Homo sapiens: one gene and its partners. The protein of the gene in region 4 purifies or fractionates together with the protein of the main gene of each other region. This does not show direct contact. Each region holds a gene or a part of one and is shown on either strand. Other genes may lie near its edges. The genes, in order: CLGN, CD44, OCRL, GLG1 and HADHB.

What was found.
Region 1: the proteins of GLG1 (region 4) and CLGN purify together in Homo sapiens (co-immunoprecipitation; one large-scale study listed by IntAct). This does not show direct contact.
Region 2: the proteins of GLG1 (region 4) and CD44 purify together in Homo sapiens (co-immunoprecipitation; one large-scale study listed by IntAct). This does not show direct contact.
Region 3: the proteins of GLG1 (region 4) and OCRL purify together in Homo sapiens (co-immunoprecipitation; one large-scale study listed by IntAct). This does not show direct contact.
Region 5: the proteins of GLG1 (region 4) and HADHB purify together in Homo sapiens (co-immunoprecipitation; one large-scale study listed by IntAct). This does not show direct contact.

The regions. Positions count from the first base shown.
Region 1 is NC_000004.12:140,399,542-140,404,638, forward strand, and holds part of CLGN (calmegin precursor), read right to left. Parts: intron 2,526-5,097; coding exon 2,444-2,525; intron 1,009-2,443; coding exon 816-1,008; intron 1-815. UniProt on the Homo sapiens protein: Functions during spermatogenesis as a chaperone for a range of client proteins that are important for sperm adhesion onto the egg zona pellucida and for subsequent penetration of the zona pellucida.
Region 2 is NC_000011.10:35,204,847-35,209,943, reverse strand, and holds part of CD44 (CD44 antigen isoform 1 precursor), read right to left. Parts: intron 4,160-5,097; coding exon of another isoform or gene 4,104-4,159; exon of another isoform or gene 3,897-4,103; intron 3,833-3,896; coding exon 3,701-3,832; intron 1,840-3,700; coding exon 1,738-1,839; intron 327-1,737; exon of another isoform or gene 1-326. UniProt on the Homo sapiens protein: Cell-surface receptor that plays a role in cell-cell interactions, cell adhesion and migration, helping them to sense and respond to changes in the tissue microenvironment.
Region 3 is NC_000023.11:129,555,769-129,560,865, forward strand, and holds part of OCRL (inositol polyphosphate 5-phosphatase OCRL), read left to right. Parts: intron 1-1,556; coding exon 1,557-1,667; intron 1,668-2,092; coding exon 2,093-2,182; intron 2,183-2,864; coding exon 2,865-2,985; intron 2,986-3,071; coding exon 3,072-3,233; intron 3,234-4,781; coding exon 4,782-4,883; intron 4,884-5,097. UniProt on the Homo sapiens protein: Catalyzes the hydrolysis of the 5-position phosphate of phosphatidylinositol 4,5-bisphosphate (PtdIns(4,5)P2) and phosphatidylinositol-3,4,5-bisphosphate (PtdIns(3,4,5)P3), with the greatest catalytic activity towards PtdIns(4,5)P2.
Region 4 is NC_000016.10:74,599,627-74,604,723, forward strand, and holds part of GLG1 (Golgi apparatus protein 1 isoform 3 precursor), read right to left. Parts: intron 1-5,097. UniProt on the Homo sapiens protein: Binds fibroblast growth factor and E-selectin (cell-adhesion lectin on endothelial cells mediating the binding of neutrophils).
Region 5 is NC_000002.12:26,279,439-26,282,938, forward strand, and holds part of HADHB (trifunctional enzyme subunit beta, mitochondrial isoform 1 precursor), read left to right. Parts: intron 1-555; coding exon 556-677; intron 678-3,406; coding exon 3,407-3,486; intron 3,487-3,500. UniProt on the Homo sapiens protein: Mitochondrial trifunctional enzyme catalyzes the last three of the four reactions of the mitochondrial beta-oxidation pathway.

The DNA of each region.
Region 1 (5,097 bases), on a different chromosome or scaffold from region 4:
AGATGAAATGGGCATTGCCCGAGCAGACAAAATGAATGTTTCTACCACTGCAGCATTTGGGGAAAAAGATTGAAATACTTTAATCTTGGGTGGAGTTGAGACGTGAGAAAGGAAGCCAATAGGGCCATTTCAAAATGTCCTATTAGGTTCCAATATGCTCTGATTTTGATAGTGGGCTGACCAGAGCTCTACAGCCATTATACTTGAGAATGGGAGAAACAACTGCTTATGATGTCCCTCACCCCCATATCTATGCAAATTCCTATTTACTTAAGTATATTAATATATGGCTGCTCAATGCTTCTCCTTTCGAAGTACATGCCACAACCAACACAAGGTAGGACATAACAATAATCACAACTGCCTACAGAATAAAGTCTAAACTTTTTAGTCTGGCATTAAGGGCCTCTTCCTTTTTATTTTTTAGTTTTCTGTTCTGGCCTCTTCCTTTTTATTTTCTAGTTTTCTGTTCTTACAGCACCACTGTCACAACGTCTAAAATGTCCTTTCACCCTACTGTCTTCAACATTCTATCTGTACTTCAAGACGAGTTCAAATATAATCTTTCCTAGCTTTGTTCCAAGTCTCTAAGCTGGAAGTAATATTGCTTGTGAACTCTTAGCTGTGCCTCATCTCTCTTTCTTATATGGTACTTTATTTTCTACCCGTGCTGTCATTATACATGTCCTATTTTCTGAAAAAGATAAGCTCCTTCAGGATGGGGTACACATTTGTTTTCTTGTAAAGCACTTGCCATGAATACATCAATAGTCAGCAAATATTTTTGAATACATGAATGAATTAAAAGGGTATACCAAGGGTATAAAGATGAGTCTTCCTGTCTGTAAAGAACTTTTTAAGGTCTACATCTGGAGGTTTGGCATGTTTCTCTTCGAAAACTCCAGTTTTGGGATGTTTATGTCTGAAGATAAAATGAAGTTTATAATCTTCTCCACATTTATCTGGTCCAAACATAATGATATAGGATGTTTTATCATAAAAGTTTTCCTTCAAAGAGAGATGAGTGTTGGCATTAGTCCAGAATCACAGACTATTTAATGCATTTCTGTATTTTATCCAATGGGTAGAGTTTACAAAAATATATTAAATGGTAATTCACCAGAGAGCTAGCTATTTAATACAAGTGACAATAAAGGACATGGGAAAATGACAAATTTTACTTCAATATAGATTTTTTTAAGTACACACTACTTCCTGACGATGTGGGACAGAAGCTGAAAATACTCTAGCAACACCATAATATGCTTTAACTCTCTATGTAAATCTATATTACTAATATTTTTATTGAGAGAATTAGGCATTAGAGGAAAGCATATTTATGGCCTTAAGACTAAAATTATCACCCATTACTATTACTTAGGAAGATACCAGAAAATGACCCTCTGAGCACAAGATGAAGAGAGATTCATTCAGACATAAAAACAGACACGAGGACATGAATTTCTCTTTATTTGGCATGGCATAGTGGTTAACAGCATGGGGCATGGAGTCAGATACTGGGGTTCAAATCCTACCACTGCCTCTTAAACTAGTTGGGTGTCACCCTGACTCAAATTTTTTAAAGCTCTCTGCACCTCCATTTCATCACCTCTGAAGTATGGAGATGATAATAGTACCTACCTTATAAGAGTTCTCTAAGGATTAAGTGAATTAATCAGATAAAGTGCTTATAGAAATACTTGGCATTAGATTTTTTTGTCATCCTACCTTCAAGTGTTCATCTAAAACAAGAGCTTCAACATATACTCCAATGGCCTCTCCTTCACTTGATCCTAATAATAATGAGTAGTACATGAAAAAGTCTCCCATCTACATTTCATAGCTTATGTACAGCTAAGTGTTCTGAAAAATATACCCCTGATGTCTCATCTATCGTATTTCTGTTATATGCAGAAAGTCTGAAACAGCCTTTTACAGGAGAAGGCTATAAGAAATATCCCCAACTTTCCAATGGTCCTAATACAACCTCTTAGAAGTATAAACCTATTTCATCATGAAAAGTTTTTAAAATTAGTTACTTTCTGTGGGTTGCTAACCCCTTTTAATTTGGTTCTTCGGCCATTTTGTTTCACTGCTATGCTTTGTTATGCTTCTCTAAACAAACTTAAGAGTCTTATTCTGTAAAGAAAATAACTCTAAGCTATATTTCAAAAGAAATTTATAAGTATCACGTAGTTTTTGTCCTACAGACATGGTAAACTTTTTCATGTTGTTAAAGATTATAAAATTGATGCCTTCAAGTAACACAGCTTTATATAAAACTTGAAGGCGAATTGTAAGAGCTATGTAAATTCACATTGAAAAAAGATATCTACAATTCTTTTCAATTTCAGTTGAAGACAAAATATTCAGTTTTATCATTTGTTCCTTAAAAATACTTATTAACTTTAATAAGGTTTTCTTAAATATTAAAATATCATACCAGAATCAAATCATCAGTGTCTGCTAGGAGTTTAATGTATGCACCTCCACAATCAATACCATCTTGAAAATTTACTTCATATCTGAATAAAGGGAAAAAGAACCGTACTACTGATAAATAAAATTTACTAGTTGCTCTTTAAAATATAATCTTATTATTCTCAATTCATGTAAGTATAAATTTTTTTACATTATCAGAAAACTCATATAAAGCATATCTACAACCTATAGGAAATAAGCAGAAACGCTTTTCTACTACTCTAAAACAAGACACATCATTAAAATATTAAAAATAGAATGATTACAATCAACTGCAGACAAACCAATCAATTTGTTTAAATTTTTTTCCATCAAAACTGATAAATTAAGCATAAGATACTGTAACTAAAACTACAACAGGAAATTTCAAATTCTGATAAGGTAAGCACTATACTTACACTTTATAAACTAAAAAAAAATAAAGGCCGTAAGAACCACAGCTACAGCAAGATTTCTACGAAATTGCTAATGATCTTAGATACCTAGAGTTCATTACACCTTACCATGTTAAATAAGTTGTACATTTAATTAAATAGCTCCAGCAAAGAGATTCATAATCTCAGTCAATAAGCTGGATTTCAGACCTAAACAGCCAGGAGATATGGGAAATTTTCACTGTTTAGTATAACAGCTAAAAGAATGAACATGAGAGTCTCTTATGAATTTACAACACAGTGTAATTCTCAGCAAAGTTTTTTTTTCTTTATTGGTAACTTTAAAAGGAAATAGCCTTGCTATGGCAATGAGGCATAGACTTACGAGATTTTTTGTTGTTAAATTAACGAATTATATGTGACAAAAATCAACAAGGAAATGGCTGTCAAACAGTAAAAACAAAAAAGGTTATGATTTCATTAAATGAATTAAATCAAAAAGACATGAAAACTAGAGAAATAACCAGAAATAATGATCATTTTAATAAAGGACTATAGTTGTAAATGTTTCTGAAGAAATTTAGTGACAAGAAGGTAAAACATGATAGTATACAAAATTTTAACAGTTTGAACTCAATTGGTGTACATATTTTGTATTAAAAAAAAGGAAACAAAATTTTAAGTATCTCTGATTTGAAAGGGGTGATTTTCTCCTATACTTTTTACCATGCTTTATTTCTTAAGCTATCTACAACAGTGGCCACAAGCATGTACTTTAAAGTCAAAATGACCTGAGAGTTATTCTTGATTCTGCCACTTACTCTAGTGACTCCTTGGGTAACGGCAAGTCATTTAAGCTCTAAGTCTCTATTTGCTCATCTATAATATGCAGACATGGCCCATACTTACACCTCAAAGGATTGTTATGATGATTAAAGGATATCATGCCCAATGAGGGGCAAATACATGCTCAAAATGCTTCTATGATAATCAGAAGGAAGGTATTCTTTCGTTCTTTTTCATTTTTTAAATAGAGGACAGTTTGTTTTCCTCAAAGTCTTATCTTTATTTTAAGCAATAGCTGACAAAATTTTGTTTTTCATGGAATTTAAGTATTTGAAGACTATAAGTAGAACACGTGGTGCATGATATGACTTAAAGGTCACTGTTTTTAGAAAAAAAATTAAAAAGATTTTGCTTTATAATAGATTATCTCAGGACAGAGCATTCTGTAAAAAGGTAAGAATTGGAAAAAACAATTTTGTACAGTGGCTGCATAAATGTGAACACAGTTTCATTGTTCCATTATGCCTAGATTCAATCACCTTGTCCATTTCTTATACTGCAAACTTTTAGAGTTTTCAAATAATTAACTTTTACCTAGTATAAATGATTCACAATGGATTAGAGGATCAACAAAATGTTTATCATACAGCTTGACTACTGCTAAACTTCCAGTCATAGGAAAACCAAGGACATATGCAGAGTATATGGTAACCTTAATTTCTTTAGAGTATCATTTCTCAAATTGTTCCATGAAATAGCAATTACTGTTAGGTGGGAAAATAAACTTATGTGATCAAATGTGTTTGGGAAACACAGTAGTAATGCTGAAAACAGGTTTTCATATGTAGAACTTCTCAGTCTTTAATGAGCTAACATACTTCCTTTTTTAATTTTATTTTTATTTATTTATTTATTTTTTTTTTGAGACAGTCTCACTCTGTTGCCCAGTTGCCCAGGCTGGAGTGCAGTGGCATGATCTCGGCTCACTGCAAGCCCTGCCTCCCGGGTTCACGCCATTCTCCTGCCTCAGCCTCCCGAGTAGCTGGGGCTACAGGCGCCTGCCACCACACCCGGCTAATTTTTTGTATTTTTAGTAGAGACAGGGTTTCACCATGTTAGACAGGATGGTCTTGATCTCCTGACCTCGTGATCCACCCACCTTGGCCTCCCAAAGTGCTGGGATTACAGGTGTGAAGCACTGCGCCAGGCCTTTACTTCCTACGTTTTGAGTTAGGATATTCTTCATCTTTAATTATATTCATATATATTAACATGTATACAATTTGGGAAAAGCAGCTTTATAGTAAAGTTATGTTGTAAATCAGCATTTATAGCATTGAATATAAATCTCTTCATTTTATTTACCCCATTTCATTTTATCAATATTAAGAGGAGACAAACATTCACTCTCCTTTGAATTGTTTTTAAACATATGAAAGACTGCTATTCAATTCTT
Region 2 (5,097 bases), on a different chromosome or scaffold from region 4:
CCAGTGTTAATTTGAAGCTACGGTACAAATCCTGTTATCTGCTAGCAAGGAAAATCTAGCTAGAGTAGAGTCAGATGGATAGGTGCATAGGAAGACCAAGGTTTGTGCACACAATTCTCCTCTGATTGATAGAAATATACAGAAGAATTCTATTTTGCCCCTATTTGGTTCTGAAGACCCTTTATTTCTCAGTATAATCATCAAAGGTAAAGTGGCAAGGTGAAGACTGAGCCAAAACTTTGCCTATCCTGGATTGTCCAGGCTCAATTGCAGCATTGCTCCCAGTCACTCCAGAAAACCAGAGAACACAGAGACATGGAAAAAAGAATATTTGAATCCCAATGCTCCTATCAGTAACCAAAAGCACCTAACTGTGTGTCAAGAAATGTGACGGCAGGGAAAATGAACACTATGATAGCCTGTAGTCTAGTTGTAACCACAAAAGAAAAAGAAGCCTATCTAGAATAGCCTACTCAAGTAACACAGATCAAATTTATACAAGGAAATACTTAGCTACCTTGTAAAGGTCATTAAATTAAAGTTACCATTTTACTCCATTATTAAGTTATTTCTTAATTTCACCTGTGCATTGGGATTTTCATCACTGCACCAAGGAAACGCTTGCCTGGGCAAACACAGGGCCCTCAGTGACATATATCAACTGGAGGTTGACCCATTGCCCATATCTAAAATCACTTGGACTGTTTCAAGTTTATTTCTTTTGTGTTCTTTTAAGAAAGGTACTGACCTGAGTTGCAGGTGCAAAAACTTCATAAAGCACACCCATAAGCCATGCCCACCACCGAATAAATATTACAACCAGGAGAAAGACAGTCACTAAATCCCAAACCCAATGTCAGAACAAAAGCCAACAGTGACATAAAACGGAAATATAAGTCCTTCTTTGGCAAGGACCATTCATAGGCTTATTTGCATCTCCTTTGATGCTTAACGCTGTGCTATTTACATTGCTGACCATCAATACATGCTTGCTGATTTTTTTCCTTTGCCTAAAGGGCTCATATGAAGGACTCTGCCCATTATGTGTGGCAAGCAGTAAAATGGGACCTTCTTAATTCTAGATTTCTTTTGTATTCCTCAAAGAAATTATGAACGACTTTAGGCTGATCTCTAGGACATCCCTGCACATAGAGTAGAAATTAAGGCTACTAGAATTTGAACATTTCTTAGTGATAGAAAGAGATACTAGCAATGTTTTGTTGTTGTTGTTGTTCCAGGGATCCCGCCACCTTTGTTGATTGTCAATAACATGCCTTGCCTCTCCTCTGAGAACTGATGTGATCTCTAGGATTATCTGGCCCCAAAAATGTCTTTTTACAACCATGCAAGCAATCCTACCCCTCTTCTGCACTGGCTGGAGGAAAGATGGACATTGAAAGGAAATGGTCAGTTAAAACATAGAGAAATCACTATCCTGGAAGTGGGCATGTGTTTCACTGACATAACTACTTAGAGAATGAAAATGGAGTTGAATAGAGTCCTACTTTTTCTTAAAACACAAAGTCATTAAATCTGGAAGGCACAAAGAAATGAAGGGAAAATCAGGTTGAGAGACCTCCACAAGAAATACAGACAATGAAGACAGTTTCACACTCTGGGCTGAAGTAAGCCACATAGCACCATTCCACCACCAAAGCTCTGCATCTTGGCCAATAGCGAGTAAGAGATGAAGCAGGAATACAAGTCAATAAAGTGGCTGAGCATCGTTATTCTTACGCGTTGTCATTGAAAGAGGTCCTGTCCTGTCCAAATCTTCCACCAAACCTGTGTTTGGATTTGCAGTAGGCTGAAGCGTTATACTATGACTGGAGTCCATATCTGAAGGAATCAATATTAGTGTTATTGCTTGATTTCCCAAACCACTACCTGAAGGTGGCTTATGGTCTACAGCTGATTTTTTTAAATATTCACATCTGGCCAAGAGGAAAGAAAGCACATACTGACTATATCTCCCGAACTGAGATAGATTATTGTTTCATCAAAGAGCACCACAACAAGTAACTGGCTTTCCTTGAAGGGCCGAGTTATATGAAAGCTATGCTGTGTGTTTGTTTTTGCTGAGTCTGGAAGGACTCCACATGAGTGCATGATGGAACACCCAAATCTTGCAGAGAGACAGAAACATTGCCTTTTTTATAGAAACATGCAATCTGACACATGGAGAAAAGACAAAGTGTGCTGGCTCAGGCACCATTTTATCCCCTCCCCCTTACCAACCAAAGGGACTTTTAAAAATAGCCCTCTTCCCCCCTTTAGTCTTTTTTTCTTCACAAAGTGAATATGCAAATAAACAGAATCGTCATCCAAGACCACCTAGGTGGAGTTACAGAAAGTATACAGGGGCAAGAAATAAGAAGCAGTGGACGTCATTGAATTATTCTTCCCAAAAACCCAAGTATAAGCGGTCTTTAAAATTTAACATGTACAATGTTGAGTAGTGCAGAAATTTCACTGAAATACTTGTAAATGTTGTTTTTAACAGTTATCACAGATCTACTCTGCTGAAATAAGAAGTCTTGAGTGAAACAGAGGCCAAACAATTCATAAACCCCATCGATATTTCTGGCTGTCAATTCAGTCAAAGTCTATCCACATCACTGCCTCTGGGGGAGATTTAATCAGTCCCAGTGAAGCACCAGAATACTGGGTACCCAGGTCTGCACTGCAGCCTTTCAACACTAAATATTCAAGATTCAACACTAAATATTCAACACTAAAATATTAAAGATCTTTGTAGGACAAAAATGTGGTGACCCTGTTATCCCAGATTTCAAACAAGAGCAAGTGCTAACCTGAATCAAAACCACAAATGGACATTCTCCCAGAAAAAGTCCCACTTGATGATGGGCTCTAGACTCTTGTTCATCTTCCCTCTTATAAGTAGAGTCCTTCAAGAGTCATCATACCATTGTGTAGTTGAAGCCAATTGTATTGTCCTTGACATGTTCATTAATTTAATGGAATCTCTTTCTCTTCATCAGTACATAGAATTAATATTGATTCTGAAGATCTTTGCCTGGCTTGGTTTTCCCCCATGGGTGTCCTCAGAGCTCCAGCTGCCATGTGCAAACTCATGTGTGCTGGGTCTGCCTGTGGTACTTCAGTCACTCAACATAATGGCCCCTGCCTAGCCATTCAAACACATCTTCCCTTGTGAAAAATGGATCCACTCACTGACATATTCATTCCTTGGCTTTTCTTCCTTCACGTTTCTCCTTACAGGAGTCTCCTTCTTAGGAAAACTGCCCCCCCCACCAACCCCCACCACCCACTTCCTTTCTCTGACTATCCAGGGTTTTTTTATTTTTCATAAACCAAGTCCAATTCACCTTTCTGTGATGCTGTGGTGGGCAGGGAGGGGTTCTCAGAATTTCTTTAGCGTTTATTGTTGGCAACATTCATTTCATATCTATTACTTACTGCCTCACACAGATATATTTTGACAATAAGTTTTTTCTTTTGCCAACCCTCCTGCTAAATTCCTTACTTTCAGCTCAGAACTTCATATTCAGGTGAATATGAGTATCACTCCTACCAAGAAAACTAATTTTTGAAGAACCTCAGGTCCTTCAGGAAAGTAGTTTGGTCTAAAACCAAGGGCATATTTCTAGAAAAATAGTCAGCAGTCACTCAGTGGATTTCAAAAAACATAATATATAAAAATCTCAGAGGCTATTACCCATCCTTCTTCCTGCTTGATGACCTCGTCCCATGGGGTGTGAGATTGGGTTGAAGAAATCAGTCCAGGAACTGTCCTCTGGGCTTGGTGTTGTCCTTCCTTGCATTGGATGGCTGGTATGAGCTGAGGCTGCTGTGACCATGCAGTTTGAGCAATTGTCAAAGTGTTAATGGACGCTTGGTCAGGGATACACCGATTTTATTTTTAAAAAAGACTTTATTCTCTAGACAAGACAATGAAACCATCTTCCTTGTATAGAGGGCAAGGAAGTTGCATAAACGCAGAATGTTTCAGCAGCTTTGGGTTCACTCATGCTCATTTTCTTCTTAGCAATCAGCATGTGAACTGGAGGACACAAAAGCATTAACAACTCCCGCAGTGCAGAAAGGATGAGTTACCGACATCAAAGGAAGATGAAGGAGAAGTACTTCTTGACCCATGCCATGCTGCCACAGTCCCCTAAAGGCAGAAGTATAAAAGCCCGAGTGCATGATGTTATTCTGAGACAACCATATTCCAGCCAAATGCACATTAGGCTGGAAGTGATCTCAGGAAAGGAATCAGGTAACAGCTTTCCATGTGATCAATATGAAAGTCAATGCCATTTATCTCAAAAGCATGAATGGAATCCGTTAGAAGCATTACCTTCTAACAATGGGATTTATGGCATAAATGACATATAAGAAAGCAGCACATGCCTTGCTTCATTCTGAGCCAATGAAGAAGTATAGGTAGAAAAGATTACAATAGCATCCTCTTAGCAACAACTACACCACATAGACAATCACAGAATCCATTGCTCTGCCAGGAATTCATTTAGAACTTGCCATGCCCCAGAAGGACATGATGCATTATCTTCTATGTTGCAAATAGAAATATGGGAATATTTCTCACTGATACCAAGTGAGAATATGGAATTCACATTCTTTATAAGGCAGGACACATTTTAATACTTATGTCACACAGACAAAAGAATCCTGCATGGGAGCTTGCAAAGCCAAGTTATCTGGTATCACTTAGAGATGATGATAAGACTGGATTCCAATTTCCACAATCTCACAATTCAAGAATAGAGAAGATACCTTTTTTATACTCAAAAACAAATTACTGAACAGGCATGGCCAAAAGGCCAAATGACATCAGACAGGTGTCACTTTTCACATAATGTCTGGCTCTATTTCTTCAAACACTGGAGTTCTGACAAAATGCTTTCTCACAGCCAGACTTTGCAGAATCATATTGTAAAGTCTGGACCCACATTATAGAGTAGATTCCTTTATACAACAGACAGCGATATTTTATCAGGGCCTCTGCTACAATCTCACTAGATGATGCCCAAAACTCGATGTGAAAGAGACATGTTCAAGGGCATTTTCTCTGTGTTTCCTGTTCTTATT
Region 3 (5,097 bases), on a different chromosome or scaffold from region 4:
GTCTTTCAAGAATTGTGTGTTTGTGTGTGTGTGAGAGATAATAAGGGTTTTTGTTCTAAATTTATGTCAGATAGAAACTACTCTTTTAAAACCACATTTAGTATAAATAATCTGAGAAAGAAAGGACTTGTTAGGCCCTGAAGGAGTTTTCCCTATATCTTCATGGCTGCTATAATTGACACTTTTTTCCTTCCCTCTCTTTTTTCCCCTCTACAGTGGCACCCTCATTAATTTTCTTATCCGTAGTCTATTTGGGTGCCTTCTTTCACATTTTTCTCCATTTTTATCTATTTTCTTCTAATTAATTATTTTATTTTCCTTTTTGTAACTCATTTTACAAAGACAGAAAGAAGAAGAAATGCAGAGGACAAAAAGCTAAAGGTTCAGAAGTGGATTTCCACCATAAAAACTAGGATTTTCATTTCATTTTCTCATGTATTTGTTATTTACACGTGGTAAAGAGTCCAGTTCATCAGTCATTAAATACCTTCTGTCTGTGAAGTCTGATGTTACTGTCACCAGTAGAGTGACCAGCAAGCCTTATTTGCCTGGGACTTTCCCAGTCTTAGCATTGGAAGTCCTGAGTCCTAGGAAGCCTCTGAGTACCATACAGTGCTGGGACAGTTGGTCACCCTAGACTCCTGAAAGTGCTGGGTTCGCTGTATGTGCACCCTGCATGCGTACCCTGCCTCTTGCCCTTAAGGAGCTTGTAGTTTCCAGAGGCATGAGAAAACAACGTATGTAATAAATCAGTTACAATAAGAATAGAAACAAGTACATAGGTTTCCTGGATCACCACATCCAAACAGTTGATATAGATGATAACTATAGGGCATCAAAAAAGGGGAGACAATATGTTATACACATAATAAATTAAAGCCCTAGCTAACTTTGCTTCTAATTCTCCTAGTTTCCAATTGGCTGTACTTGAACCAAACCACTTCTGAGCATAGGTCATTATATTGTTTTTGTATGTTTATTCAAGACATACATTTTAAACTTGAGGTAATGAGTTGTAGATGCTTCTTTTCAGAATACTTCAAACCAGTATCACTATTTTTAAGTTATTTTGTAAATTTAATCTGTGCTTACGGACAAACCATCCTACTTATTTTATTCCCTTCATGCTTCAGATACTCTGACAATGTGATCTGGACTTGAAATGGTAGGAATTTCCAGCTAAGGAATGGGAGGGAGGGTGATTGAGGAATTTACCTTTTGCTGGAATTTGAAGGTCCCTGCTTTGATGTCTGAGAGATAGATCAGAACGCAGGAAAGTATAATTTTAGTATGTGTCATATCCTTAGATCGGGCTGCTCATGGACACGGTTCATCAGCCTTAGGAGTTCTCACTTCCCTTAGGGTTCCCTCTCTGCATCACCCCTTCCACCACCGTCATACTGACTCTCTTGATCTTGTATGTGTGCTTCCTATATTAGAGATCTGGAATATTTGTGATCTGGACCTTCTTCTGTTAACCTGATAAGTTGAGAATATGATCCCAGTAAAACATTTTATCCCATAGCAGTATATGTATGGATTTCAATTCTTTTTAGGTGGCTGCAAAATTCGGGTTCAGGGGGACTGGATCAGAGAGCGCCGCTTTGAAATCCCTGATGAGGAACACTGTTTGAAGTTCCTCTCAGCTGTCCTTGCTGCTCAGAAAGGTAACTAAAGACTCAGCGATTTTCTTTCTTCTATTTCAACGGGAGTGGAATTCTGACATGCTGATACAGAGGAAAGTGGCCATTGGCAAAATACCTCACCCTTTAAGCCCTGATAGCTGATTTTTTTTTCTTCAGGAGTGAACACAGGGATAGGTTAGGGAAAAAATCTGCCCAGCTTTAAGGACACTAGGCAAGTTTTCAGAATATTCAGTGTCATGGCAAGCACAGCTTACCATAGACTATAATTCTCCTTCTGCCCCTAGATGACCCCAGAGCTGCCCTCATTTCCTTAGTTTCTTCCACTGTATCCAAAAATGGTGCTGGCCCCTGCATATAAGGAATGTTGAAAGAATGGCTTTTGGCTATAGTAAATTCTACTCAGTGAAAGACTTCCCAGTTTCTGACCATGAACCTTATCTCTCTAGCTCAGTCACAGCTTCTTGTTCCAGAGCAAAAGGACTCATCTAGCTGGTACCAGAAATTAGACACTAAGGACAAACCTTCTGTTTTTTCAGGTACTAAAAAGTTCCTGGTTTCCTTGTTGCTATGGTCATTGCAGAGTCAGTAGATTTTGTCAGGCCAAATATGGTGATGTAGATTAAAGCTGATGTCAGACACATTCTCCTGCAGAGTAGTTTTATCAAGTCCAGGCCCACTGACCAGTGTTCACTCCTTATCCTTCCTGTAGCATGGTAGCTGTTCAGGAGCCAGCTTAGCAGGGTGGTAGAAAGTACAAGCTCGAGAGCCAGACAGCCTGGATTTGAATCCCAAGTCAAGAACTTACTAGTTGTACAACCTTCATCAAGTTACTCAACAACTCTGAACTTCCCTTTTCCTTTCTGTAATATGGGAAGATTTTTAATAGTACTTACTTCTTGGAGTTTTTGTGATGATTAAGTGAGATCATGATATAGTCCCTTACTCTCAACCAGGCATTGTGCTCAGTCTTCAATAAATGTTAGCTATTACTAGTCTGTTCCAAGTTCTTATAAACTTCTATTGTTCTAGTTAGTATATCAGTGCTTCAGGGATAGGTATGCTTCTTCGAACTCCAATCCAAGTAATTTCTACCCTTATGATAGTTTTCTGTTTAGTAATACCACTGATCAAATTGTGATCAAATCAAAGCCCTGTTACCCTGGATATGTTGGATGTTAGATTTTTTCCCCGTTTGACTTTGGGGTCTGTGTCTTTCAGGGCTTCTTGGATTTGAAGACAATTTTTCTTCTATGAATTTGGACAAGAAAATAAATTCACAAAATCAGCCTACTGGGATTCATCGGGAACCCCCACCTCCACCCTTTTCAGTGAATAAAATGTAAGTCCCATGTGAAAACATATTTGCCTTGTAGGAGAATTATAGTTTAAACAATTTTACTTTTGAATCTCTCATTTATTTGCTAGGCTTCCACGTGAAAAAGAAGCTTCTAACAAGGAGCAGCCCAAAGTGACCAACACCATGCGGAAGCTCTTTGTACCAAATACCCAATCTGGGCAGCGGGAGGGTCTCATCAAACATATCCTGGCAAAGCGAGAGAAAGAATATGTCAACATTCAGACTTTCAGGTTAGTGTCTCTTTTGCTTCCTGAGTCTAAAAAGTTAGTATATATAACAGACAGTGGCCTGTTGATATTTAAGACATTAGCCTAATTAAGAATCAAAATATGATAAAAAGGAATGGTTGCCTGTTTCAAGCTCCTGTCTCTATGCTGGCCAATAACATGCATATCAGAAATAATGCAGATGCTACAGTTTCCCTTGGATTTTCTTTTTTTGTGTGTGTGGGTCAGGGTCTCTCTTTGTCACCCAGGCTGGAGAGCAGATAGATCATGGCTTACTGTAGCCTCAACCTCTCAGTCGTAAGCAATCCTCCCACGCCAGCCCTGCAAGTAGGTGGAACTACAGGTGCACACCACCACATCCAGCTAATATTTGTGTTTTTTATAGAGACTGGGTTTCACCAGGTTGCCCAGGCTGGTCTCAAATTCCTGAGCTCAGGCAATCCACCCGCCTTGGCCTCACAAAGTGTTAGGATTACAGGCTTGAGCCACCGTGCTTGGCCTTCCCTTGGATTTTCTAACTACTAATAATGCCATGTCTACTAATGTCTCTACTGAGTCCTAGAGAACCAAATCAAGGTCACATGTACTAGAGAATTTTCCCCTAGCACATTCCATAAGCAAGCGTGTTTATATATCTGGCCTGTTAAGTTTTTTTTTTTCAGCCAATATTAGAAAATTAAAGTCCATCATTACCACTAGCTCTTAACTTACTTACTTTGGTAAATAAAGAAAGTTTCACCCAGTCCTCTTGATTGGGAGGTCTATCTTGGGTTCTTTTATCTGTATTATTTTTTATTTCATCTTTTTTCTGGACTTGTGTGTGTATGCTGCATGTGAGGTACCATGTGGCATGTATCGCCAATGCATGAAGCAACACCACATTTCTTTGTTATTCATGAGCAGAATGTACCCTTCTAGTCCAAGATTCTAGTCCCATCTGCTATCCTGTCATACCTCATTTATTCTAATTCAGTCATAACTATATCCCTATGCTAAAACTTGCAGTTCCTCATATCCCCCACTATGCTTATATTTGTGTGTAAACAGTTAAGACAGTCATGAGTTTTCCCTTCTGCTTTCCCCCTTAATACTATGTCTGCCTCATCAGAATTTCCTACACAGATGTCCTTGTAATCCTTCAGGAAGTGAGTTCCTGGAGTCAACTATAGCCCCTTATAGAACATTTATCCATATTTGACTAGCTTACAGCATGAAGATACCTCTTTCCCATCCATAAGCTCTCCTATCAAGTATGAGTTTGGATGGAGCTTAATTGAAAGGAAATGTGGTATAGCAATTACCTTTGCATTTTTTAAAAATAAAGACTTGGTTTCCTTCTGTAGTTTTACTTAATGTAAAATTTAGAGAAAATAAGCCCACTGCCTTTGTGTTCTAGATGCAAAAGATCTTTCTTACATATGTGGCAAAACATTTTGAGGAATTATGTTAGCATATTGTGAACATACCTTTGTATGGAAGCGAAAAGAAAGAACTTCTGTTGGTTTATACTTGATCTTTGTTTTCAAATTATCTTTTCGTATTATGTATTAGATTTTTTGTTGGAACTTGGAATGTGAATGGCCAGTCTCCAGATAGCGGGTTAGAACCTTGGCTGAACTGTGATCCCAATCCTCCTGATATCTACTGCATTGGGTAAAGAACACTTCTGGAATTTCCTTTTGGCTATATGTTTGGTGTTCATTTACATGATGTTTTGCCTTTTTTAAAAAAGACTGTTGGTAAAACCTACTGTAGACTATACACGAGAGTTAACTTGCGGGTCAAATTTGTGAGAACAGAAATGAACAGATACCTAAAATGGTGTAAGGAAGCATCTAATTTTCTTGAAACCCGTAGGAATCTATAT
Region 4 (5,097 bases):
GGCCGAGGTGGGCAGATCACGAGGTCAGGAGATCGAGACCATCCTGGCCAACATGGTGAAACCCCGTCTCTACTAAAAATGCAAAAAATTAGCCGGGCATGGTGGTGGGCGCCTGTAGTCCCAGCTACTCGGGAGGCTGAGGCAGGAGAATGGCGTGAACCCGGGAGGTAGAGCTTGCAGTGAGCCGAGATCGCGCCACTGCACTCCAGCCTGGGTGACAGAGCTAGACTCTGTCTCAAAAAAAAAACAAAAAAAAAATTAGCCAGGCATGGTGGCTGGTGCCTGTAATCCCTGCTACTAGAGAGGTGGAGCCAGGAGAATCGCTTGAATACAGGAGACAAAGGTTGCAGTGAGGTGAGATCGCGCCACTGCACTCCAGCCTGGGTGACAGTGCGAGACTCCGTCTTAACCAAAAGCAAAACAAAACAAAAAAACAACAGAGAAAGATAATCCAGTGTTAGTGCTTTCTGAAGCATGTGCTATTGGTAATATGCAAGATGATTTCAGGTGGTATGTGTTGGTACTTATATTTTATAGTCATATATTTAGTTTCATATATATTAGAGAAGTATACCTACCACATCAAATTCATGAGTTCACGTATATTTCCGCTTAGAACAAGGCTAAGTGGTGTTGTGTACCTATAGTCCCAGCTACTCGGGAGGCTGAAGTGGGAGGAGAGCTTGAGCCCAGGAGTTTGAGGTTGCAGTGAGCCATGATCATGCCACTGCACTCCAGCCAGCCTGGGAGATAGAGTAAGACTTTCAAAGAAAAAAAAGAACAAGGACAAAGCTAAAGTAGACAGTCCTTGCTTAAGAAAAGAGGCCGGGTGCACTGGTTTACACCTGTAATCCTAGCACTTTGGGAGGCCAAGACAGGCAGATCACTTGAGGTCAGAGGTTCAAGACCAGCCTGGCCAGTGTGGCGAAACCCCCGTTTTACTAAAAATACAAAAATTAGCCGGGTGTGGTAGCGCATGTCTGCAGTCCCAGCTACTCGGGAGGCTGAGGCAGAAAAATCACTTGAACCCAGGAGGCAGAGGTTGCAGTGAGCCAAGAATACGCCATTGCACTCCAATCTGGGCGACTGAGAAAGATTCCACCTCAAAAAAAAAAAAAAAAAAAAAAACAAAAAAAAACAGTGACAGAAATTTCAAGCTAAGAATAGCAGAGCTGTGTTCCACCCAAATCTAAATCCTAATTTTGTCTTATTACACTGCCCTAAAATAATTTACTATCTGTATGACATCAAGTGATTAACACTCTTATATAATCGCTTCTCGATCACAACAATCTCACTTATCAAACCAACTGTAAGCAATGGTGGTGTCTTAAAGTACTAGTGTCCTTCCACAATGATAGGTGTATAATAGAAGATCAATAATGACTTGATTATGTGGTTAGATTGCTTCCAACCAGACAGACAGCATAGGAGGAAATTCCATATTGGCTCAAACAAAACAATCATAATATATCCTAAAGCCAAACAATGTTTGGATTAATTGCTGTTTGAATTATTCATTGTCACTGATTCCCTCCATGAATGAATATGGAATCAGGAACTGGTACATATATAATCCTAGAAACTTTACAATATATACATACCCAGAGAATATATACAGGAAACGACTCATATAAGTTAGACAGCAGAGATCTTAGAAACCGTACTGTAGGGGCAGGGTGTGGTGGCTCCGCCTGTAACCTCAGCATCCGGGAGGCAGAGGAGGGTGGGTCGGTTGAGCTCAGGAGTTAGAGACCAACCTGGGCAACCCGGCAAGACCTTGTCTCTCTTAAAATTAAAAAAAAAAAAAAGTATACCCCAACTACTCATTTAACACATCAGGAAGCAGAGAGAGAAAATGCTTACAGTCATTTGTTAGTTAATGGCACTGACAGCTCTAGTCTCAGTTCACTTTTTGTGATGTTCCATGGATTCAATATAAATATCAAGGAAATACAACTAAATGCTTCCAGTGTTCTAGTACAAATCCTGCTTAAGGTGAGTTGGGATTTGAAACTCTTTTCATAAAGCAGAAATTCGGTTTATGATGCACTCAGACTAATTAAATTAGCGTTGGGTGATAACGCATTTGCCTGAGAAATCTACAAATACTTCAATGCACTGTTACAACTCAGTTGTTCTTGTGTCCCATTTAGCATACATTTATAAACCTATGGCATTCTCAACAGTCACAGACTAATGTCCTTAGCTACAACCACCCATGGTACATTAGAAAGAGTATGGTCTTTTAAGTCAAAAAGGACTTCCTGAACACCAGCTCTACCACTTAGGATATAACATCAGACAACTTACTTTAGCTCTTTGAGCCTATTTCTCTGCTAAAAGAATAACACTAGCACTAGCACTAGCACCTCATTATCATTATCATTGATAATGATAGTCATTATCAACAGTGAGACAATAGAGATGGTGTAGTCCACTATCTCAAGTATACAGTTAAGTGAAAGGTTAAAAGCAGAGTATAAAAATATTTACCTATGAGTCTAAAAGGGGGTTTATGGTTTGCAACACTGAAATGTTAATTCCTGTTCAATACCTAAATTAGTTTATTTAAATATTTACAAAGCATTCACTCTGTGCAAAGCTTAGAGCATGGCTACAAATTTATAATCTGAGACTGATATATCAAGAAAAGGTGGCAAGAAAGAATTTTTTTATGTTTTTCTTTTTAGTGTCAGAATTACTTGCAAAAGAAAGATTATACATTTAAATACAAAAACAAACAAAAAAAACCTTCTAGTTTTTAAAAAGTATTTATCACAGACATGCTTGAAGTATTTGAAATGACAGTATCTGGGATTTGCTTTTAAATATGCCAGCCTCCCAACCCTGTGCCCTAAAAATAAAAGGGCGGGGCTGGGCGCGGTGACTCACGCCTGTAATCCCAGCACTTTGGGAGGCCGAGGCGGGCAGATCACGAGGTCAGGAGTTCGAGACTAGCCTGGCCAATATAGTGAAACCCTGTCTCTACTAAAAAATACAAAAATTAGCCGGGTGTGGTGGCGGATGCCTGTAGTCCCAGCTACTTGGGAGGCTGAAGCAGGAAAATCGCTTGAACTCGGGAGGCTGAGGTTGCAGTGAGCCAAGATCGTGCCCCTGCACTCCAGCCTGGGTGACAGAGTGAGACTCTGTCTCTCAAAAAAAAAAAAGGGTGGGAACAGTTGAAGCTGGGTGATGTATACCCAGGGACTCATTACCCTATTCTCTCTACTTCTGTGTAAGAAAATCTATGGGGCACGCACAATGGCTCATGCCTGTAATCCAGCAGTTTGGGAGGCCGACGCAGGCAGATCACCTAAGGTGAGGAGTTCAAGACCAGCCTGGCCAAGGTGATGAAGAGGCTGAGACAGGAGAATCACTTGAACCCAGAAGGCAGAGGTTGCAGTGAGCCAAGATTGTGCCACTGCACTCCAGCCTGAGCAACAGGGCAAGACTTCGTCTCAAACAACAACAACAACAACAACAGCAGCAGCAGCAGCAGCAGCCAGGCGCAATAGCTCATGACTGTAATCCCAGCACTTTGGGAGACCAAGGTGGGCAGATCATGAGGTCAGGAGATCAAGACTATCCTGGCCAACATGGTGAAACTCTGTCTCTACTAAAAATACAAAAATTAGCTGGGCGAGGTGGTGCGTGCCTGTAATCCCAGCTACTTGGGACGCTGAGGCAGAAGAACTGCTTGAACCAGGGAGTCAGAGGTTGCAGTGAGCCGAGATCACACCACTGCACTCCAGCCTGGCAACAGAATAAGACTCCGTCTCAAAAAAAAAAAAAAAAGAAAATCTAATCTATGAACATCACAAACTTTTTATTAGAGACGGTGTCTCACTATGTTGCCAGGCTGGTACTGAACTCCTAGCTCAAGCAATCCTCCTGCCTCAGCCTCCCAAAGGGCTAGGATTTCAAGTGTGAGCCACTGCGCCCGGCTGAACACCACAAACTTCTAAGGAACCAAGGTCTCCATCTGAAACTTCGAAATACAAGACACTAGTGGAAAAAAAAAAAGTGCTACTGGCCATTTCAACCAAGAATAAGTAAAGTATTTTAAAATGACTGACAACATCAAGCATGCCTTCCTTATCACATACTAAGCAACAGTATCTTCTCTTTCTTTGGTATTATTACTCCACCTACTAGAACAGCCCAGGGAATATTTTTTCTTTTCTGCCTTACACTTTCTAATTTTTTGTTTTTATTTAAATAACTTGAACTACTAATAATTATACACACACAACTAGGACTACTAACACACCATTACTGGCTATTACATCTATTATTTCATAGTGGACCCATGATATACTTGGCCTTTTTAAAAGCATGACTCATCCGAGAGCGTTAAAAAAAAAAAAAAAGAATCCCAAGGCCAGGCACAGTGGCTCACAACTCTAATCCCAGCACTTTGGAAAGCCCAGCTGGGAAGATCACTTGAACCCGGAATGTGGAGGCTTCAGTGAACTCTCAAACCCAGAAGACTGAGGCTGCAGTGAGCTATGACTGCACCACTGCACTCCAGCCTGGATGACAGAGCGAGACCCTGTCTCCATAATAAAAAATTTTTTTTCAGAAAGAAAAGTTCCATAAGGTTCCAAAAAGCAAAAGTTAAGTTTGACATATGCCAAGTACTACAGTGAATCCACATGAATGAACTGATATGTAGGCACTGTACTAGGTATCACAAGTATTTTAGAGAAGACAAGAATTCGGAAGGGTGTGCACAGATGATATGGAAATACGACACCATTTTATACGGTATAAGGTACTTGAGCGTCCTTGGATTTCAATATCTGCAGGAGGCCTGGAACCATCCTCCAGTGATACCAAGGAACAACTGTACTCATATGCTCTGCCTTTTCATAATTCCAATAATGGGTACGGATAGGAAAATGTTCCCTGCATTTGCATGCAAAGGGACAGAAAAGTACATATATCTATTTCACTATCAAATAGTTCTACTTACTGAACAGCAAATACAAAACATATTCTATACATGTTTCTTCAAATGTGCCTAACTAGTTTACTTCTTTAAGTTATGCTCTTTCAAACACATAGATCAGATTTAATTAACTCCCAGACTAA
Region 5 (3,500 bases), on a different chromosome or scaffold from region 4:
CTTAAATATGGATGCAAATTTTGATTTATGTTGTAACAATAGGTTAACATTTTTTAATGTTTCTATAAGAGTGTCCTTTTAAGATCTGAGCACTAATCTCAGCACTTTGGGAGGCTGAGGCAGGAGGATCGCTTGAGGCCAGGAGTTCAAGACCAGCCTGGTCAACAGCGTGAGACTTCATCTCTAATTAAAAAAAAAAAAAAGAAAAACAGAGTCTCCTTTTAGATCTTGCTGATATATTTTAGTTCTTACATACATGCCTGTTTTTAAAATTCCTGAATCGTCTGACTTCTGTATAGAATAGCCAACTGTGAATGAATGTCTTAAGAAAATAGGGTGTCCTATTTTTAGTAAAGCATTTAGATGATTTCCCAATTGTCTTTTAAGACTTTAGTTTAAAATTTGATAATATGATAATTATAAAACACTTTCCTTCTAGTGAATAGGTAAGGTTTATATTTCATTTGTTTTTGTAATTTTTAAAGCATATTTCTGTGGAGAAGATATATAAGGCTTGTGGTTCCATAGAGTTAAAAAAATTCATTTTTTTAATAGGAAAAGATACAGTTACCAAAGATAATGGCATCCGTCCTTCCTCACTGGAGCAGATGGCCAAACTAAAACCTGCATTCATCAAGCCCTACGGCACAGTGACAGCTGCAAATTCTTCTTTCTTGGTAACTGTCAATGTTATTTGTATTTAGTAGTGACTTTTCTATTTCTGTACTCTCTGTAGAAAAGCCTAATATAACTTTTTGTGTGTGTTATGAATAGAGGGTTAAAAATATAGTTATTCATTTTAATGTGAAAGTGGAGTCATTAAAAAAAAAATAGAATCACGGTTTTAAGGCCCGAGAAGTCACCTAATCCAGCCACCATTCTGCCACAAAAGCTCTTCCTTTCAGGCACTTAACCAGTCAAAAACTTCTATTGCTTATGGTGGGCCCTGGAAATGAAAAGAATAGACAATTGCAATATAGTGAGATGCTGTGATGGCTGTAAGGCTTAGGTCGAACCCCTGACCCAGATGGGGGGACAGTCAGAGAGTCTTCTTGGAAGAGGTAACACTTGAGCAGCAAATCTTGAAGGAAGAGTAAAAGCCAACTCAGGAAGGATTTTAAAAGGCATTTCAGGCCGGGTGCGGTGGCTCACGCCTGTAATCCCAGCACTTTGGGAGGTTGAGGCAGGCAGATCACCTGAGGTCAGGAGTTCGAGACCAGCCTGAGCAACATGGAGAAACCCCGTCTCTACTAAAAATACAAAATTAGCCAGATGTGGTGGCACATGCCTGTTAATCCCGGCTACTCGGGAGGCTGAGGCAAGAGAATTGCTTGAACCCTGGAGGCGTGGAGGTTGCGGTGAGCCAAGATCGCACCATTGCACTCCAGCCTGCACAAGAGCGAAACTCCCATCTCAAAAAAAAAAAAAAAAAAAAAAAAAAAAGGCATTTTGGACAAAGGGAATAGCAAATGCAAAATCAAGGAAGTATGAGAGCAAGGGGTTCTTTGGGGAAAAGTTAGGTTGGAGCATAAGGTATGAACTGGGAAGTCGCAGAAGACAAGGAAAAGCAGGCAGAAAGAGTAACAGGATACCTCTTCCAGCCCTGATTGTTAGAAAACTGCTTTACACTGACCCCAATATTATTTTCCTGTAAGCATCATGGAACAAATCTACCACTGTTTGTTTTGTGTTTTTTTTTTAACTTATCAACATGTAGCTTCATATCCTTCCATGCTTTTCTGACTCCTCAATTAAACATCTTTATTGATTCTGCTGCTGCTTGTAAGATGTGATTTCTCTTCTCTTACCACCTTGGGTATAGTCTTCTGGATATAGGCCATCTGGTCAGAGTTTCTCTTACAATGTAACTCTCCTACCTGGCCATAAAGTCTTGAAAACATACGCAGATGTTTGACATATTTGCCCATGGTAAATGACTAATTAATGCCTGCTCTTGATAGGCTAGGGGAGTGGAATCTGGAGTAGTTCCAACAGGATGGAACACCACCCTGTTAAGCCCAGGTGGTGAAGAGCTGGTTAGGTTGGTCATTTGCAAAACCGAATTGGATGATAGAGCCATGTGGCATGGACTACACTTGCCAGATCTGAATCCTTTTGATTATTTCCAGGGTATGCTAAAGGTCCAGGTTTATTTAGTGAGAATCAGAGACACAAATCATCAGAGGTGACACATCACAATACATGGATTTTGGGGACTGCATTAGTGCCCCACATTCATTGCAATTTTGCACAATGGCACATTGAACCTGTTATTAATGTAATGTCTGTAAACCATTTATTCCATATGGTCACCTATGTCTCCAGACTTTATGGACACCCTATTGGTGGCTACACAGTCTCTTCAGGGTTGCCGAGTTATAAAAATACGACAGAATGTGGTAGAACTTATTTTGATTTTACAAATTATGAAGAATAGTTTCCTTTTCTTTGGAATTCTGAAGTTTTTGGGGGAGCTTTTCTTCTTTGAAGTATGGTAAAGGACGTTTTTTCAGTAGTACTTCTTTGTCCTCCAGCTTCTCGGTTGTCATTTGGGAAGAAATGTATGGGGTGTATCCAAAGAGGGAAGATTGTGGTTCTAATGTCCTCAGCTGGTTCTCCCATTGGTTTGCTCGTTACAGAATATATAAGTAGAATAAAATGACCTGTAAGCCACGGGCAGAAAGCAGCTGAGAGCCCAGAAAATGTAAAAATAAATAAATAAGAGATATGTTTATTTTGGTTCATATTTTGTGCCACAAGCTAAAAACTTTGGCTTAAATAAGTGTTTAGTGTTTATTATGAGCAGTTCTTTCTTTTTTTTTTTTTTTTTTTTTGAGACAGAGTCTGGCTTTGTCACCCAGGCTGGAATGCAGTGGCACGATCTCAGCTCACTGCAACCTCCGCCTCCCAGGTTCAAGCAATTCTCCTGCCTCAGCCTCAGCCTCCCAAGTAGCTGGGACTACAGGTGTGTGCCACCACACCTGGCTAAGTTTTTCTATTTTTAGTAGAGATGGGGTTTCACCGCGTTAGCCAGGATGGTCTCAATCACCTGCCTCATGATCTGCCCGCCTCAGCCTCCCAAAGTGCTGGGATTACAGGCATACAGGCATGAGCCACCACGCTTGGCCATGAGCATTTATTTCTAAAGTTACCTCTTCTGTTGATTCATTTTGATTATTATGATACTTTTGAACAGCCTTCTCTACCCTCATCCTCCAAAAATGAGTCAGCGTGTGTATGTTTGAATTATGATTTAATGATGGATACAGTGAAGTAAGTGTTGTTATATAGAATCACTGTATAAGTCTAATGAGTTAATAGATTCAGGTACAGATATATAAGATGGCTGGAGAAAGACCTCCAGACAGGCTGAAGAATTTTAACATTGTGCTGGTTAACATTTCAGACTGATGGTGCATCTGCAATGTTAATCATGGCGGAGGAAAAGGCTCTGGCCATGGGTTATAAGCCGAAGGCATATTTGAGGTAAAGTAAATGTT